Linked DNA regions of Homo sapiens: region 1 is linked to region 2. A link means that fine-mapping ties the variant in region 2 to the expression of a gene that starts in the linked region. Tissue or cell type: spleen. Region 2 holds a variant in brackets; the other region holds the start of a gene. All regions are shown on one strand. Distances are between the middles of the regions.

Region 1 (8,153 bases), 190 kb after region 2:
AGTGAGCCGAGACCGCGCCGCTGCACTCCAGCCTGGGCTTTGAGCGAGACTCCGTCTCAAAAAAAAAATAAAAATAAAAAAAAGAAAAGAAAATGTTATGAAAGTCAGTTTCTGACTTGGAGCTTAAAGCAGCAGACAAAGGGGTCCTTTTTCTCTGTCAAAATATAAGAAGATCCCAACTAAGACATTTCATTCTAGAGATAATGTTAATTCTGTGTCTGAAACATTTGACGTAGAATAAAAGGCAGTTTCTAAACCGTGTTCCTGCCTGTTAGTCCTATGCACTGGGCTAGGTTTTCATGATCTTCTTTTCCACATCTCCTCTCTGTTCTCTGACCCAGGGACTACGAACATTTTTCCCCCTCACTTTTTATAGTTAATGCGATATTTGGAACCACAACTTCTTTAATCTGTTAACTCTCCTTACTTGTCTATATTATGAACATTGTATCACAAAGATGACTGCATTACATAATAGAGGAATATGTCGATATTTACTTATTGTATATAATAATGTGTTTATCCATAAAGACAAGATGAAGTGTTAAAGGAAGCTCCAAATTAAGATTAAGAAAAATGAAAGAGAATTATAATGGTTTTGGATTGAGTGAGCTCACATAAGAAAAAAGTAATATACATTATAAACATTTCTTAGACAGTATTTGAAAGGGAAATCTGACTTGATAAAAATATAATCATATTTTTAACCACCTAGTTAACTTATATTTGTTTTATTTTATTTTTTAGAGGCAGGGTCCTACCCTGTGGCCCAGGCTGCAGTGCGGTGATGTGAGCATAGCTCACTGCAGCCTCAACCTCCCGGGCTCCCGTGATTCCCCTGCCTCAGCCTCCCCAGTAGCTGGGACTATAGGTGTGCACCACCATGGTTGGATAATTTGTTTTTTTAAAGTGTCTGTAATGGCCAGGTGTGGTGGCTCACGCCTGTAATCCCAGCACTTTGGGAGGCCGAGGTAGGCGGATCACCTGAGGTTGGGAGTTCGAGACCAGCCTGACCAACATGGAGAAACCCCGTCTCTGCTAAAAATACAAAATTAACTGGGCATGGTGACACATGCCTGTAATCCTCGATACTTGGGAGGCTGAGGCAGGAGAATCGCTTGAATCCGGGAGGCAGAGGTTCTAGTGAGCTGAGATCATGCCATTGCACTCCAGCCTGGTCAACAAGAGCAAAACTCCATCTCAAAAAAAAAAAAAAAAGAAAAGAAAAAGAGTAGAAAATATTTGTAGTGATGAGGACTGTCTATGTTGCCTAGGCTGGTCTCAAACTCCTGGCCTCAAAATGTGTTTTGATTACAGGCATGAGCCACTGCCTACAGCCCATATATTTTAAATAAATGACTAAGAGTAGAATGGGGCAAATACAATACGATACAATGGAAAGAGTATTAGATGAGGCATTTCAGTCCCCATAAGGACACATCATTGCTAGTTATTAAGCTTTATATAGTATATTTTATAATTAATAAAGCAAATCTACTATAATGTGAAACGATTTTCTTTTCTAACTAGTTTAAGATACTGGAGGTTCAAAATATTTTTACTTCCAATGAGATCCAAATTTTAAAAAATAATCTTAAAACCACCATTAGCAACAACAACTTGGCTGGGCTTGGTGGCTCACGCCTGTAATCCCAGCACTCTGGGAGGCCGAGGTGGGTGGATCACCTGAGGTCAGGAATTTGACACCAGCCTGGCCAACATGGTGAAACCAACCCGGTCTCCACTAAAAATACAAAAACTAACTGGGTGTGGTGGTGCATGCCTGAAATCCCAGCTACTCGGGAGGCTGAGGCAGGAGAATTGCTCAAACCCTGGAGGCAGAAGTTGCAGTGAGCTGAGATCATGCCACTGCACTCTGGCCTGGGCAAAAGAACGAGACTCCATCTCAAAAAAAAAAGAGAAAATCATCAACAACTCAACTGCCATCAAACAGGAGGAAGGGGAAAGGAGGAGTGCGTTTTTAATGGGCACAGAGTTTCAGTTTGTGGAGATGAAAAAGTCCTGGAGATAGCTGGTGGCCATGGTTACAGAATGATGTGAATGTACCTAATGCCACTGAACTACAGATTTAAAAATGATCAAAATGGCAAATTTTTCTTTTATATTTTACCCCAATAAATACTGAAAGCCTACTGACAGGTGATTGCTGTGAGGAGGCTATGTATGTGTATGCATCTCTCTTAATTCATTTGACGAGTCCATTTGGACTGGCTCTGAGGACTTTTTTGTATATTTTAAAAATTGGTACAAGTTGATGTTGACTTATGTTGGTAACAATTGTCACATGAAAAAGCCTGTTTTAGACAAAAAGTGAATGGTTATATGAGTGTATTCTGCTGCAAAATTTCCAGAAGAAAAAGAAATCATGAATATTTTTAAAATTTCCTTTCCCTCTCATTTCCCTCTTTTGCTTTATATGTGTGGTGAAAAAGAAAGCTATGAACTGAGGCTGATTTCTGAAGATGCTGAAGATACTCATAAAGGAACAGAGTAGGAAGGAAAATTAGCTTCTAAGATCAGAACATTAGGCAAGAAATCAACAGACATGGGTTCTAAGACTTACTTGGTGATTTATTAGCCCAGTCTCTAGGTGTCCCTGAGCATCCGTGTTTTTTGTTTTTTGTTTTCATCATAAAGTGGGGAAAATTATGCTTTTCCCATTTGACTTACAACGGGTTAATGTATGTAATCATGTTTTATAGATTGTAAAGTGTTCTAAAAATTTAAGGTGACATTATTGTATCTACTGGCACTACAATAAACAATTGCTTTCACTAATGATTTCCATGGTATAAAACGAATGAAGGATCTAAATGAGGAGCGTTGCTCCGTTCTGTGTTGATTATATGCCAGGTTATGTCAGCCTAGGGATGAGTTGAAGCAGAGAGGCTGCTACAATTTGGCTTTTTGATTTCCCTTATGGTTTCTCTCTCTCAATCTGTGCACTGAGCAAGCAGCTCTCTCAAAAACCCTTGAATACACATTGATATATATTCCAAAGAGATAGGTTTTGAGTTATTTGAACTCCAGTTATTTTTGGACAAAATTCATTTGAAAAGAGAAAATAATAACAAATGATTATACAAGTAAGAGGACTAAACATTCATTTATGAGAAATAAAGTGGAATGCAGTAATTGTGTTTCCTCTAAATAGCTGCTTTTGTAATATTTAGAGGGTGATGTGCAGCATGCTACTGGCCTGCTTTAAAGAATGCATGTGAAATACAAGCTATAATGCAAGAAACGTATGCTATGGATAATGAGGATGTGAGCTATTTTTCATTAAAGGCAGAGAGTTACAGTTATGTCTGTGTGTGTGTCCTTGTGTGTGTGTGTGCCTCTCCGTGTGTGTGCTTGTGTGTGTCTTTCTGTCCCTCTGTGTGTGTTTCTGTCCCTGTGTGTGTGTGTGCTGGCTGATTTGGAGATGAAGACAGAGGCAAGGATCCTTTCTTTCTACTCTAGGAAAGGTTTATGCTCCTTGAAAGAGATACTGTTTATTTTCTTGCTATACCTTTTGTGAAGTATTGAGACTCTTGGACTGTGCCCTGTCACTCAGTAGGCTGAAGTACAAATGCTAATTATCGCCAGACTGCAGCATTGTGATTTGCATTCCAAATCAGCTTGCAGATTCCCATTATAAATTGCTATCCTCTTGTTTCTTATCTAAAATTTGTTCCTCCCTTACATCACTCTTCTCATTCCCTAACACTGACCTTTAAAGAAATTCCCTTTCAAGAGATTCTCATTGGAAACCAGCAGCTTTCGTGGGCTATAATCATAACAATAAATAACAAAGACATCAATAGGGTTTTTCCTTCCAGTGGTTTTCTCCCTTTTACTTAAGAGTCATATGGCACTAAGTAAAATAATTACTTAAAACATGTATCTCTCAGGCTTAGAGCTTTATACTCACTCCTTTGACAGCCACGCTTCTATTTCTTTTTAAATCTCAAAGGTGTGGGATTACAAGTCCTGTCTTAGTAATAAACTTTTGCAGATAAACCCTGAGATGGTATAACTGCATCCTTTCTTGGCACCTTAAATCAAATTAACTAAATACTTAGTGAGGAGAGAAAAGGAAAACACAGTTTTTTTGCAACGTATCTGACTGGGTGAGAAGCCACTGCTGCAGCATAAAGAACCGACGGGAATCTGGGCTTTCCCACTCTGGAATGAAGGGGGGAATTACGGGTTGGTGGTCGGCTTCATGTTAGGAGGACACCCCTCCATCTGTTCACAGCTCAGCCTGTTTCCAATTTAAAGCCCAGATTTCAATACAAACCTCAATTTCTTTTCCCCATTTTAAATGCAAAGCAAGACTTGTGAATCATAGTGTCTCTGCTCCTGGGATTCAGACCAAATTTCCCCCCAAAATTCTCAGGCTATTTGTTTGAATACCTGCTTACAGTGGTACACAATGGGCAGCTTTGAGAAGAAAAATTGATAATCTTCACGGAAGAGTAATTTGAATGAAATTACACTTGACAGCCTGTCTCCAAGCAAACAAGAGGAACGAGGGAGCCTGAGCTAAGCTCTGAGGACTTGCCCAAGCCACTGCTGTTGGAGCTTCCCAGGAAAAAAAAAAAAAAAAAAAAAAAAAAAAAAAAAAAAAAACCCCCAGTTTTTCCAACATCTAATTGAGCTTTTGATTAATTCCGTGTACCAGATTCTACTGAAGAAAGGTAGCCATGGAAGAGAATATGGAAGAGGGACAGACACAAAAAGGTACTGTGCTAAAAGCGTTTATTTGTAACTAAGTAATTATTTTGCAGTTTCCTTGTTTGCTTTAGACACTTGCCAGTAAGGCTAATGAATGTTTCTCTCTTGGAAGGCATTTTGTTCCTTCCTCTCCTTTAGTCTGTTCCTCACTTGCAGTAATGTCTGGCACGAATGTTGTCATTATTTGCAAATCTTTCAGATATAAGTACCGAAATGCAGAGTCGAGTATTAGTGAGAAGAGCATTGCGGTATTGTAGTGAACTATTCCTTAGACCAGTCTTTGTTAACCTTCATTTATTTCGTGATTTCACACTTGCCGAGCTGGGTCAAGGGATCCCTAGTGTGAGCCACAAATACAATATTTGGAGTTAGTTAAAAATTTGGTGATGGAACCATTATCCATATCTTTGCATGGACATCTGATAGAACAAAGACCAAGACCATTAATTATCTTTTGATTGGTGCACCTTTTTAAAACAATCTTTAAAAAATAAAAACTAAAAACGAGGATGCAATATAGGTTTAAGCAGATGGAGCAAAAGTTCATAAATTTTCAGGGTGTATGGAAGCGTTAAGATTTTCCTTTCTATATAGTTGACTGTAATCAACTTCTGAGTAATAATGTTAAAGGAAATTTTTTTATGTGTTTTTAAAGCTTGTCTAGGTATATCTGGCTGTATGAGTTAAAGTGAAATTTCCATTTTTGAAGGTTGAAATGGTCAAATATTGGTAATTTGGAATGATTCAATCAACTCGAGAATTGTTTTAACGTGTCAAATGGTAGCTTCAGAGGGAGCTAGCTTTCACCCCAGATAGGCAGCGTTTCTCTCGTCTGCTGTCGGGCTTATGTAATGTCAGAGAAAATGGTCTCATTTTCTTAGTACTGAAGCAGTAACACAGGTAATACTACATAAAGGTAATATTCAAGAGTAGTGTTGAAAAAGATTCAGCTGTCAAAGTTAATTTCAAATGTATATAAAGGCACTTATCGTAAAAAACTGTATTTTATGTGATAAAATATATAGGGTGGAAGCACAGTATAGTTACCATATTTTTAGCCATTTAGCTATGCTGGGTTTCTTCTCTTAATGTACACACACATACTTTGAGGCATATATGGTGCATACACACACACACACACACGTAATAAAGGACCATCGATATTAAATACATGAAGGTTTTATATAAGCAAGAGATAATAGATAAGTTGATTTCCCAATTTTAGTCCTTAGTACCCTTATTCATGATAATCTGTAATAGAAACACAAAAATCTACATTAATAGCATGTGATCTATTTTTAAATTAAAAAACCTCAGCTCCCTTTATTATATGCACAAATAGCCCAAGTTTTCATCAGTGATTGTAAATGGGACATTTTAATGGTAATTTCTGTTCTTACAAGACATCTCAGTGGACTATTTTAACTTAGAATAAATTACCTTATGACAACATCTTTTTTGTAATACCTAATAATGATACTTATTGGCCGATCAATTTGCTTAAGGAAAGATAAACAGCATTTTAAATAGAGGAATGATATTCATTACACTAAATAAAACCTTGAGTTAAATCATGGATTGTGGTAACAGGTTGAATGTGTCTGAGCAAGCCTTGGTAGATGCGGGAACCAAGAAAAATGATGTAATTAGTTGTGATGTTTTTTTCTCAGGTAACACTGAAAAGCTTTCTTTTATGGGGGTGGAGGTGGCTATGCCGTGAGGGGAAGATTTCTGTCACAGTGGGTTTTTCCTCATTAATATATGCACCAGCAGCAGTGGTGGAAAGCAGTTTTAAATCAGAAAAAACGTTTAGTGGTCTATCAGTTTGTAAATGTATATGAATACAATATTTATGATTTAGGTTTTTTTCTTAATTGAGAAAAGAAGATGTAATTTTCTTCACTCTTGATCTTCTGTTCCTCTCAATTACGCCTATGACACCTTTTCTATATAAGTTTGTTGTTAGAAAGTTACATTTGAATCGAAATGCTCTGTCGATATGTGCGTGGGTTGTAACTGTGAAATTACTGGAGGAGCAATTTGACAAGCAGACAAAATCGTTACAGATTTTTCAAGAGTTTAGGTGGAGAGACTTAATGATCTGTCTAAAGAAAAGCAGCATTTTGTGTTAGTTCTTATCCTGTTTTTCTTAAACTGCATAGGATTTTCTTAAACAATAATTCAAATAGCACAGAGTTTTCTTCCATTTGCAAGAAGTAAGTGGCTTTTCAGTCTTTTCTTAAAATTTAGACCTTGTCTTTCCTGTTACATGTCACCAAGACTTAAAATTCACATCAGTGTTTACTCATATGACCTTGCAAATTCAACTAGAAGGTAAAATTCAGTGGATTCATTAATTAATTGCAATTTGCTATGTTCGAAAATATATATACTTGGTGTTTAAGCATTTAAAAAGATCATCCGTCTTAAGAAATATATTTTTCTTCATAGTGAGAGCCCACTCCCCTCTCAAGCTTTAAAAGACAATTGAGAATAGTCCTAACTTTTATCCTAATTTAAGCATATGTGTTCAGTCAGAGAGAGAGGATAATTTAACAGTATGGGTGACTTCACCCACCAGCCATTGTGTTCAATGAGCCCATGCCTGATGTGAAACTGAAATGGGGATCATTAATCTGTTGCTCCAGCAATTTCTGACACCCTCCCCAAAAGTGAGTATCTCATTATGCTGAGGGGAATCTAGTATTTTAAGAAACATATTTTTTGGTAAAACATGGCCTCTAAATGAAAGCCACTTACTTCATCTTGTGTGCAGCCAAAACAATGATATTCTAGTATAGAAAAAAAAAAAGGAAAAAAAGAAAAGAGTGTTTTGAATTTGGTCTTTACTATGGCCATAATAAACCTAGCATCATCTGTCACCAAAATCAAGAGCCATTGTCACAAAATCATGGCAACAAGGACCCCAGTTACTACAGAGGGGTTGAGCAAAGTGAATAAAGATATTTTGATGAAGATTTAACAGGTAGGCGTTTATGACTTGTAGCCATGCAACTGTTTCTAGAACATTTTGCCAAATCTTACGAGAAAATACGTAAATGATTTTTGGGTTTCTAATTAGGAGTGAATTGGTGAATACACATTCGGGTGGCCAGACAAGTGGGTGACCATCTCTTCATGGACAGCCCTAATGAAGGCCTTGCTGAATTAGGAGGGCTTTACAGAGGAAGGCTGATGAATCAATAAGTAAAGGGAGCAACAAAACTGTATAGAGATAAAAAGAAAACAGCAAGGGACAGAAAGAGCCAGCAGGTTGGAGTCTTCATAAATTGGCTGAACTGTTCCAAACAGCCAAAACCCTGATGGCTTTAATTTCTGAACATGAACATTTTATGAAACAGGTCTCAAAATTACATGGAGTATACCAGAAAGTTTTGATCAGCACAAAAGAT
Region 2 (8,153 bases):
TCCACCTCAGCCTCCCAAGTAGCTGGGACTACAGGCGTGCACCACCACACCAAGCTAATTTTTTGTTTATTTTTTTGGAGAGACGAGGTCTCACTATGTTGCCCAGGCTGATCTCAAACTCCTGAGCTTCAGGGATATACCTGCCTCAGGCTCTGTAAGTGCCAGAAGTACAAGTGTGAGCCAGCAACTTATATTTATTGAACAAATGTATTAGTGTTATGCTTTGCTACAGTCACAGTTCATGTTAGTCAATTTCTAGAAGGGTGATGCATTTCTGAATGATATGTTGAACACTTTTAATTTTTGTTGACTACTTCCTTTCCCCTCCCATAAGAATAACTGTATTCCCATGTAACTGAAGTGCATTTACACACCCCTGCCAGGAGTATACCTCTTCCATTACGTGAGAAAGAGCTGTGCAGATGTTTATGTGGCATTTGAATGATATGCTCTGCATTTATCCATGCATTCTGCTAAAAATATTGTTATTTATTTTTCATATCACCTTTTCCCCATTAGATAGCAATGTTCCTCAAGGTAAGTAATCATATCCATTTTATTTTATTCTTCCACTTGCTCACAGCATAGATATGTATACTTTTGGGTGTGCTTTGCATGAAAAAGCTGTGTACACCTTGGGGACTGACTTACTGAAATAACTTCTCCAGTATGACTCTTGAAAGAACTAGGTCAATAACCCATAGAGTTATATAATTTTTTTTTTTTTTTTAGCTTGAGGAGACCTTAGAGATCACTTTTTCCAGATCCTTCATTTTACAAATTAGGAAATGAGCCAGGATTACAACTCATCCTCTCAACTGTCAAGCCCTGTGCTCTTTCAGCCTCATCAACTGCCTCTTGGATTGAATTGTTTATTTTCCAGGTGATTTCTGCATATTATGATGTGTGTGTGTGTGTATGTCAGGGTGTGTGCATGTGTGTTTGAGTGTATGGTTTTTAGAACTTTATAACCTTGTCCAATTACAGAAACATATTTTATGTAGAAGAAAGAGGAGATGACAAAGGATAAATTAAAGGGAGAATTTTCTCTTCCTCTTGTCTTTATTAATGTTATTATCATTAAGAAACAAAATGGTACACAGAAGACAAGGGAACATAAAATTATCATATGAAACCTGTCTTTTGGAATAATCTATTTCCAGACTCCACTTAGAGATCATTATCTTGGCTACCGAGTCGGTTGTGGGGTGCTGAGACAACGTGTGTGTCTGTAATGTGCATTCAATGTATTTAGGAGAGAGACTTTGCACGTGTCTCTAATGAAAGTGAAAGGGGGCAGGGTGGGGGCCTCTGGGGAGGAGACCCACAGTGAAGGGGAGGAAAACGGGCTTCTCGCAGAGGAGGCAGGTGGAAAGAGGGAGGGGTCTGTGCGCCCGCAGAGTCGCCAGGCGCCCTGCGAGTTGTCTCCGCTGGGAGGGGCGAGGCTGTCACTTGCCAGGGCGCGAGGAGCCTCAGCGCGGCTTGGAGAACTTGGCCCCGCGCAGCGTCTGGTCACTCGCTCTCCTCTGGGGACTGCAGAGAAGCAGGACCTCGGGCCATGGGTGAGTGCGCGGGCGGGCGCGTACACCTCGCCCAAAGGCTCGGCCTCGGGAATGGGCATTATAGAAAGAAAATGAATGTTCCTCGGCCTCAGACTGCGTCCTTCCCAGCTCTGTTCCCCCCGCGCCTGGCGTCCCCCGCCCCCCGCCCTCTTGTCTCCGGACTTTTTTTTCTGGGAGAGAGGCGATGGCGATGGGGTGGCACCTGGAGGCGAGGGAGGGTGCCCGACTGTTTACAGTGGGTCGGGAGGGTGGGGGGCTGCGCTTGGGCGCTGATCCTCTGCGCCGGCCCCAGGACCCAAGCCTGGGGGTCCGGTCTACCGTGCTGGGGGCGGTATTTGGGAAATAAAGAAAGACTAAGAGACCCAGGATCCGAATAGCGAGGCGATTACAGGGAGATCTCTGTCCTCCCGAGTTCCCACGTTTTCATGTTCTCTTTGGGGAGCAAGTTGAAACGGGGCACGAGAAATGGAAACTTCCTAAAACTTCCACTTTGTACAGGTTTGAGCAGAGGAAGGTGCTGGTGCAGGGCCAGACTGGGGACAATTTCTAGTCCCTTTCCAAACGAAGTGCCCATTTGCACAAAAGGTTTGAGGTTGAGGCTGAAGGCTGATTCTTCCTAAATTCCACCTGGGTAAACAGCGTGATTAAAAGGGCGTCCACACTGGCTCGGGTCACTGGACGGTGGAGTTCGGCGCAGTTCAGCTTCGCTCAAGTTTCCAGGCAGGGTCCGCTTATTCGGTGCTTAGCGGAGGCAGCTTGGAATAGCTCCAGGAATGTGACTGCGTGTGGCGGAGGGGAGGAAGAACTGGGTGTGAAATAGCCGATTCACACCCAGCACTAGGACGCAGGGTCCCACGAGTCACCTCGAAGAGCGAGGGAGAAGCTGGGGAGGAGAAAGCACTCGCCATCCCTGGACTGGCGTATCCACAGGCGCAGGGGAGATGCTGCTCTTCCGCGGTTGCCGACTGCGTTCAGCCCGCAGCCCGAGTTACTCTTCCAACCCCAGCCCGCTCACTTCTTCCAGCCAAGTCCACTGGGCGCCCCTCCCCCTTGCTTCTCCCTTGTCCTTTGTTGTGAGGGATTTCTCCAAGAGTAAAGGAGGCCTTGGGGACTGACGTGCTCGGGTTGAAATTCCTGTATTCCCACAGGCTCAAGGGTTAGGGGATGCTTTGACTACTAATTTCTGGAGTTTATAGACAGTAGCCAACTTGGAAGAAAGGAAAAAAGAGAAAGCTGAGGACATTTTTGCCTATGAATGTTAGCTGTGATCAAGACTTTCATAGTCTCTTCTTGCTTGACCCCTGGAAGTGTCTTAGAAGGACCCATTTTTAGGGCCTTTGTATAAACAGTGTTGGAAATGGTCTTAAGAAGGACTGTCTTTAAATGTTTTCTGAAAAGGAAGGAGTATTTTCAGGTTAAAAAAGAAAGATAAAACATTTTCCCAAGTGTGGCAGAGAGTATTTCAGGCTCTTTTTTTTATTTGGTTGTTAAGTGTTGTGTTCCATTGGAAAGACAGGTCCGGAATATTTTAAATTTTTCTCCTAAACCCAACACTTGCTGTTCTACTTGACCACTTGAGCCTATAAACTCTTGTTTCTATGCTCACACAGGAGAAAAGCTGTCAGAAATGGAAAGTCAAAATAATTGACTTGATGTAGTCTATTCATTAGCTGTATTAAAAGCATTAAAATGCCATTTGGATCCAACATAATAAAATGTCTAGAAAGAATTACATAATTTACCCTTGTAACCTCAAGCTCGAGAGGACTGGCTATCAAAGGTAAGGTATTCATAATTTCAAACTTAATTATTTTTAATTTCCATTTCCTTACTATAGTGAAAACAATTTGTCCTGGATTTTGCTTCAATGCCCATGGATAATTAACAATCATCCCTAATTATAGGAAGATTTTGTTGTGGGGGATGGTGTGGAGTTAACAGCTGAGTTGTCAGGATCCAAAGCTTGGTCTGTAACTCTTAGAAGTTCTCTTTCCTGTCTGTAATCTGACAGATACCTAAAATTTGTTTGTTCCTTCTACTGCCAGAAGTGGATAACATTTTTCCTGTTGTAATTGAGGTCACCAAAAACTTACGTAGTCAGGGGCCTAGTAGGACAGATTAAAAATATTCCTGAACTCTCTTTAGATGGAAGTAGAGGAAGCAAGTGAGGAAGCCAGAGGTGAGCGAAATAGAGAAAAGAGCAGGCCTGTAGCAGGGGAGAGTGACAGCATGAAGCCAGAACTCAGGACAGAGATTCAAGTATGCAGTCCAGAGACTAGGAAGAGCCAATAAGAGGGGCAAAGTGGGGAAAGCAGGAAGGAAGTGCATAGGGGAAATAGAAAACATTTGGCCACTTAAGGCCATATCTCTCCTCTTTCTTTTAATTTACTTATGAAAAATAAAACTTCACTACTCAGAACCTCTTCTATTTAGTGGTAGTAGGGATGGTAGGGAGTTTAGCATTAGAGTCCAAATGGCTAGGATAAGAGGGAAAAACAGCGTAGGAGAATGCTGGATTGCGCCAACAAATGGAATCCAGTTTTTTTGTTTTGTTTTGTTTTTGTTTTTTTCCTGGTATCATGAAAACCAAAATTTATCACTTAAAGAAAGGAAGATAGTGTTCTGGGGATGAATGTAGCAATCAATTCTCATTTGTCTTAGAAGAAGAAATCTGAACTCTAGCACTGTGGAAGAATGAGAGTAATTGGTTAATCAAACATTCTGAATAATTTATAGTCCTTCATATCCATAATGCACAAGGCTGATTGTAAAAAAAAAAAAAAGTTATTTGCAAAGTAG[G/A]CAAATTGCAATTTTGGCATCTCTTCCTTTTATTGTTTGATTTCCTCATTGATGTCCTCGGCTTCTCTAGGTATGCAGCAGGGCTATCCCTCCACTGCAAAATTTCACTCTGCAGAAAGGATGCAACAAAATAGTTGATACTAAAAAAACTGCAGGGCTAACACATTGCTAAGAGTATTTACATTTTAACTTTAAGATGAACTTTAACCTGCGAATCTCTAATTGTGGAATTTCAGGCCCCATTGGAAAGATAGGTCAGGAATATTTTTACATTTTCTCCTGAACACAACACTTACTGTTCTACTTGACTACATGTATATCACTATGAGACTACATGTATATCACTATGAGACCATTGATTACTGTTTTGTTTAAAAATGATGTTGAATATGATTTAGTTTGACAGATATTATGAAAAGTTTAATGGGAGTGGTACTGAACCTGTCTTGGAGGAATGTGAAACATTTGGAAAGGAAGTGGTTCTAGGTAGAATAAGGAGCTCCTTCTCATGGCAGTAAGGAGGTGTGTTTGGGGAACAGTAAGACATGGAGCTGGATTGACAGGATGGGATTTGATTTTGGAGAGCTTTTAAAAGCAATGATAGGAGGTAGGGTGTCATGGAAGGTTTTTGAGCAGGGAAGACATAATGAGATTAGTGAAAATGTTGTTTAAAACAGAATTAGTTGGAGAAGACAGATCCAGTTGTCACAGTAATCCTGGGATAATATGATATATGCCTAAACCAGTTTGGGAATAATATTATATGATATATATGATATGATAATAATAGAATATGATACATGTCTAAGCCAGTGGAACCGGAGAGCAAAAGATTGATGAGAGATAGGTCAAGTGAAAAATCTATAAAATTAGGAAATGGAGCAATAAGAGAATGAATAGAAGATTTTGTCTAGAAATTTGAAATCTTGAAGACTGGGGAAGCAGTGGGTTCCTTGATAGAATATTTAAAGGATAAACCCAATGGTTTACTTTCTGCATGTTTTGGACAAGAAATTAATTTCATATTTGAAATGTTATTAAGAAGTGATAGCAAGGCCGGGTGCGGTGGCTCACGCCTGTAATCTCAGCACTTTGAGAGGCAGGACGAGCTGGGTGGATCAGTTGAAGCCAGGTGTTTGAGACCAACCTGAGCAACATAGTGAGACCGTCTCTACTAAAATTACAAACAGTAGCCGGGTGTGGTGGCACACGCCTGTAATCCCAGCTACTCGGGAAGCTGAAGCACGAGAATCGCTTGAACCCATGAGGCAGAGGTTGCAGTGAGCCGAGATCATGCCACTACACTCCAGCCTGGACAACAGAGAGAGACTCAGTCTCAAACAAAAAGGAAAAAAAAAAAGAGGTAATAGCAAGACATCTAAACACAAATATTTAGTATGTTAGGAACACATAATGAGAATTTAATCAGAACACAGGAACAAAAAGGAAAACAAAGATGAAAGGGTTACCAACCTTTAGTGAGAGGAAAACCCATGAAATGAATTATCTATTTGAAAGTGTGAGTATAAGGAGTACTGGTTGAGGGACAGGGAGGGAAAGGATAAATCCTGTTTGATTGAAGAAGGATGCCAACTGCATGATACGTACTAAATGCCCCAACATAAGAACAGTGAAATGTGACAACTTAAACATTCCACATTAGATTTAAGAGTATACACATTTTGACAAGAGAAAAATATCCAATGGAAATATTTTGCTCTTACTCAATTTGAGTAACAATGGAGTTGGTTAAGTATCTGTAAAATTGTTTGCAAATTTAGACAAAAAATAATGACACACAGTATTGTCTTGAGCTCATACCTTTTTTTTCAGGAAAACTATGACACCCTCGAGACAGTTATGAACAAGGTACAAGAGCCAAGGTTTGAAATAGGAGAAGCAGATGATAATCCCTTATGCCTTTGAATGGGTCCTATAAATCTCTGGGATCCTGTTTCCTCATTTGTTTGATGAGAAGGTTGGGCAAGGTTCTATAAATTTATGTAGCTCAGCTCTTGATCCAGTAACTATTAGAGAAAAAAAAAACATGTAAAGAAGATAAGATTAAGCTATTTCCATTAAGCAAATCAAGAACACTTTTATGATGCTAGAGTACTGGATAATACTTTTGATCATTTGGCTTCTAGTGTGTTATTTTCCTTAGAAAATCACAAAGTCTGATAAGAGTCCCAACCTCAGCGGAAGAAGATAAAAGTCATGTTCTAAGCATTTATTGCTGCATAAAATGATCTCCCAAACTAGTGGATTAAAACAACAATTTATTATTTTCATTCACGGTTCTGAGGGCTGACTGTCTGCTGAGCAATCCTCATTTGAAGTCTCCTGCCTTGGAAGCCTGATGACAGCAGGGGATTCAGCCATCTGAAGACAGGATTGGACTGGTCGTCCAAGAGAGCTCACATATATATAGCTGGCAGTTGATGCCAGCTGTTGACTACGAGTTTATCTCGGGCTGTCCTGAAGTGGCTTGGGTTTTCCACAAAATGGTGGCTAGGTTTCAAGAGGCAGCATCCCAAGAATGAATGTTCCAAAAAACCCAAGCAGAAGCTGCAAAGATTCTTATGATCTAGCATCAGAAATCCCAGGACATCGCTTTTCCTTGATGTGAGGAGCAGCCAGCTCATACGAGGAAAGGAGAAATTGAGGGTAGCCGACTAATTGATCTAATTCCTAAAAGAGCTGTCTTGTTAAGTGTGCTTCACATTGGGTTTACAACTGAAAACTCAGCACAAGTCCTGAGAAAAACATGATTAAAGACTAAATTTTTAATTAGAAACATGAAGAAATCTAAACAGTCACACTAAAATTTCACAGCAAAACATTTGAGTGTGGAAATTCATGCCTGGGTGGAAATGTGTTGGTAGAATACTGGGATAAGCTCCACTCAAAATAGTTTCAAATAAAATCAGCTAATCTTCCTTATTTTCCCTTGAGTCTGAAGTTTCTAAGGCTATTGTAGGGTACTGTTCATTTTATTTAGAGTGGAGTTGGTCATAAACTGGAATGTAGGTCAATTAGCATAAATCCTTTGCTCAATATCCTCTTGTCACAATCAACTAGATGCTTTGTAGTGAACTGTTTAGGAGCTTGCTTTATTTTTCAAGAATGTGTTAGCTTTACAAAGTACAAAATTTGAATTGGTATAGTGTCACTAGGGGTTTCACCATACTTTTCTTTTGAAGAGATGTATTTAACTAAGGTTCCACTTAACAAAACTCTTCATGTAAATCTCCTTTTATTATTAATACTTTTATCTGGCAAAGTTAGAGCTGTCTCTGTGATTACAAAAAATCGAGGCCTTTCTCCCAGACATTTGAAAAACAAAGAAAAATTAGGGTAAATGAGATGGGTTGAAACTCCAGGACAGAGTTAGTTTCAACCTAGAAATTTTAGAGGCCTTAAAAAATATTAGCTCATTATTGTGTTTCAGCTTATTTAAGTTGAGGTCATTCTATTTTCAACTGTTTGACAAGAGGTGAGGAGACAAGGGTAAATACTGCAAAGCTGTGTACTCAATGCTCACTATCCATGCTATAGCAAGCAAACAAAGCCACATCCCAATGAGAAATGAAGCCTTGACCTGTATGAACGACATAACCAGAATAATGGAATAATGCGTTAATTCTAGAAAGCAGTATGATAAAACAAATTCTTTTTCAGTTTAAGATATTCGCTATTTATTTTAAGATATATAAGGTATGCTTAAATAATATACAGTAATAACAAAATAAATATCTCTTGCTAGTTGTATAAACTTTCTTATTGTAGAAC

Evidence for each region. PIP is the estimated chance that this variant, and not a neighbour inherited with it, causes the effect.
Region 1: it holds the start of GPM6A, and the variant in region 2 is fine-mapped to the expression of GPM6A in spleen (GTEx, PIP above 0.99).

The regions. Positions count from the first base shown.
Region 1 is chr4:175,808,784-175,816,936 of GRCh38, reverse strand. It overlaps GPM6A (glycoprotein M6A), which reads left to right and starts at 4,673. Exons shown (of 7, transcript NM_201591.3): 1 at 4,673-4,746. The coding sequence starts at 4,710. GPM6A-DT (GPM6A divergent transcript) reads right to left here. Exons shown (of 8, transcript NR_125901.1): 8 at 4,748-5,077.
Region 2 is chr4:175,995,718-176,003,870 of GRCh38, reverse strand. It overlaps a transcript of GPM6A not described here. Among named protein-coding and RNA genes, the nearest start is that of WDR17, 66 kb to the left of the region's middle. The variant G/A (reference allele first, on the strand shown) is at 4,362.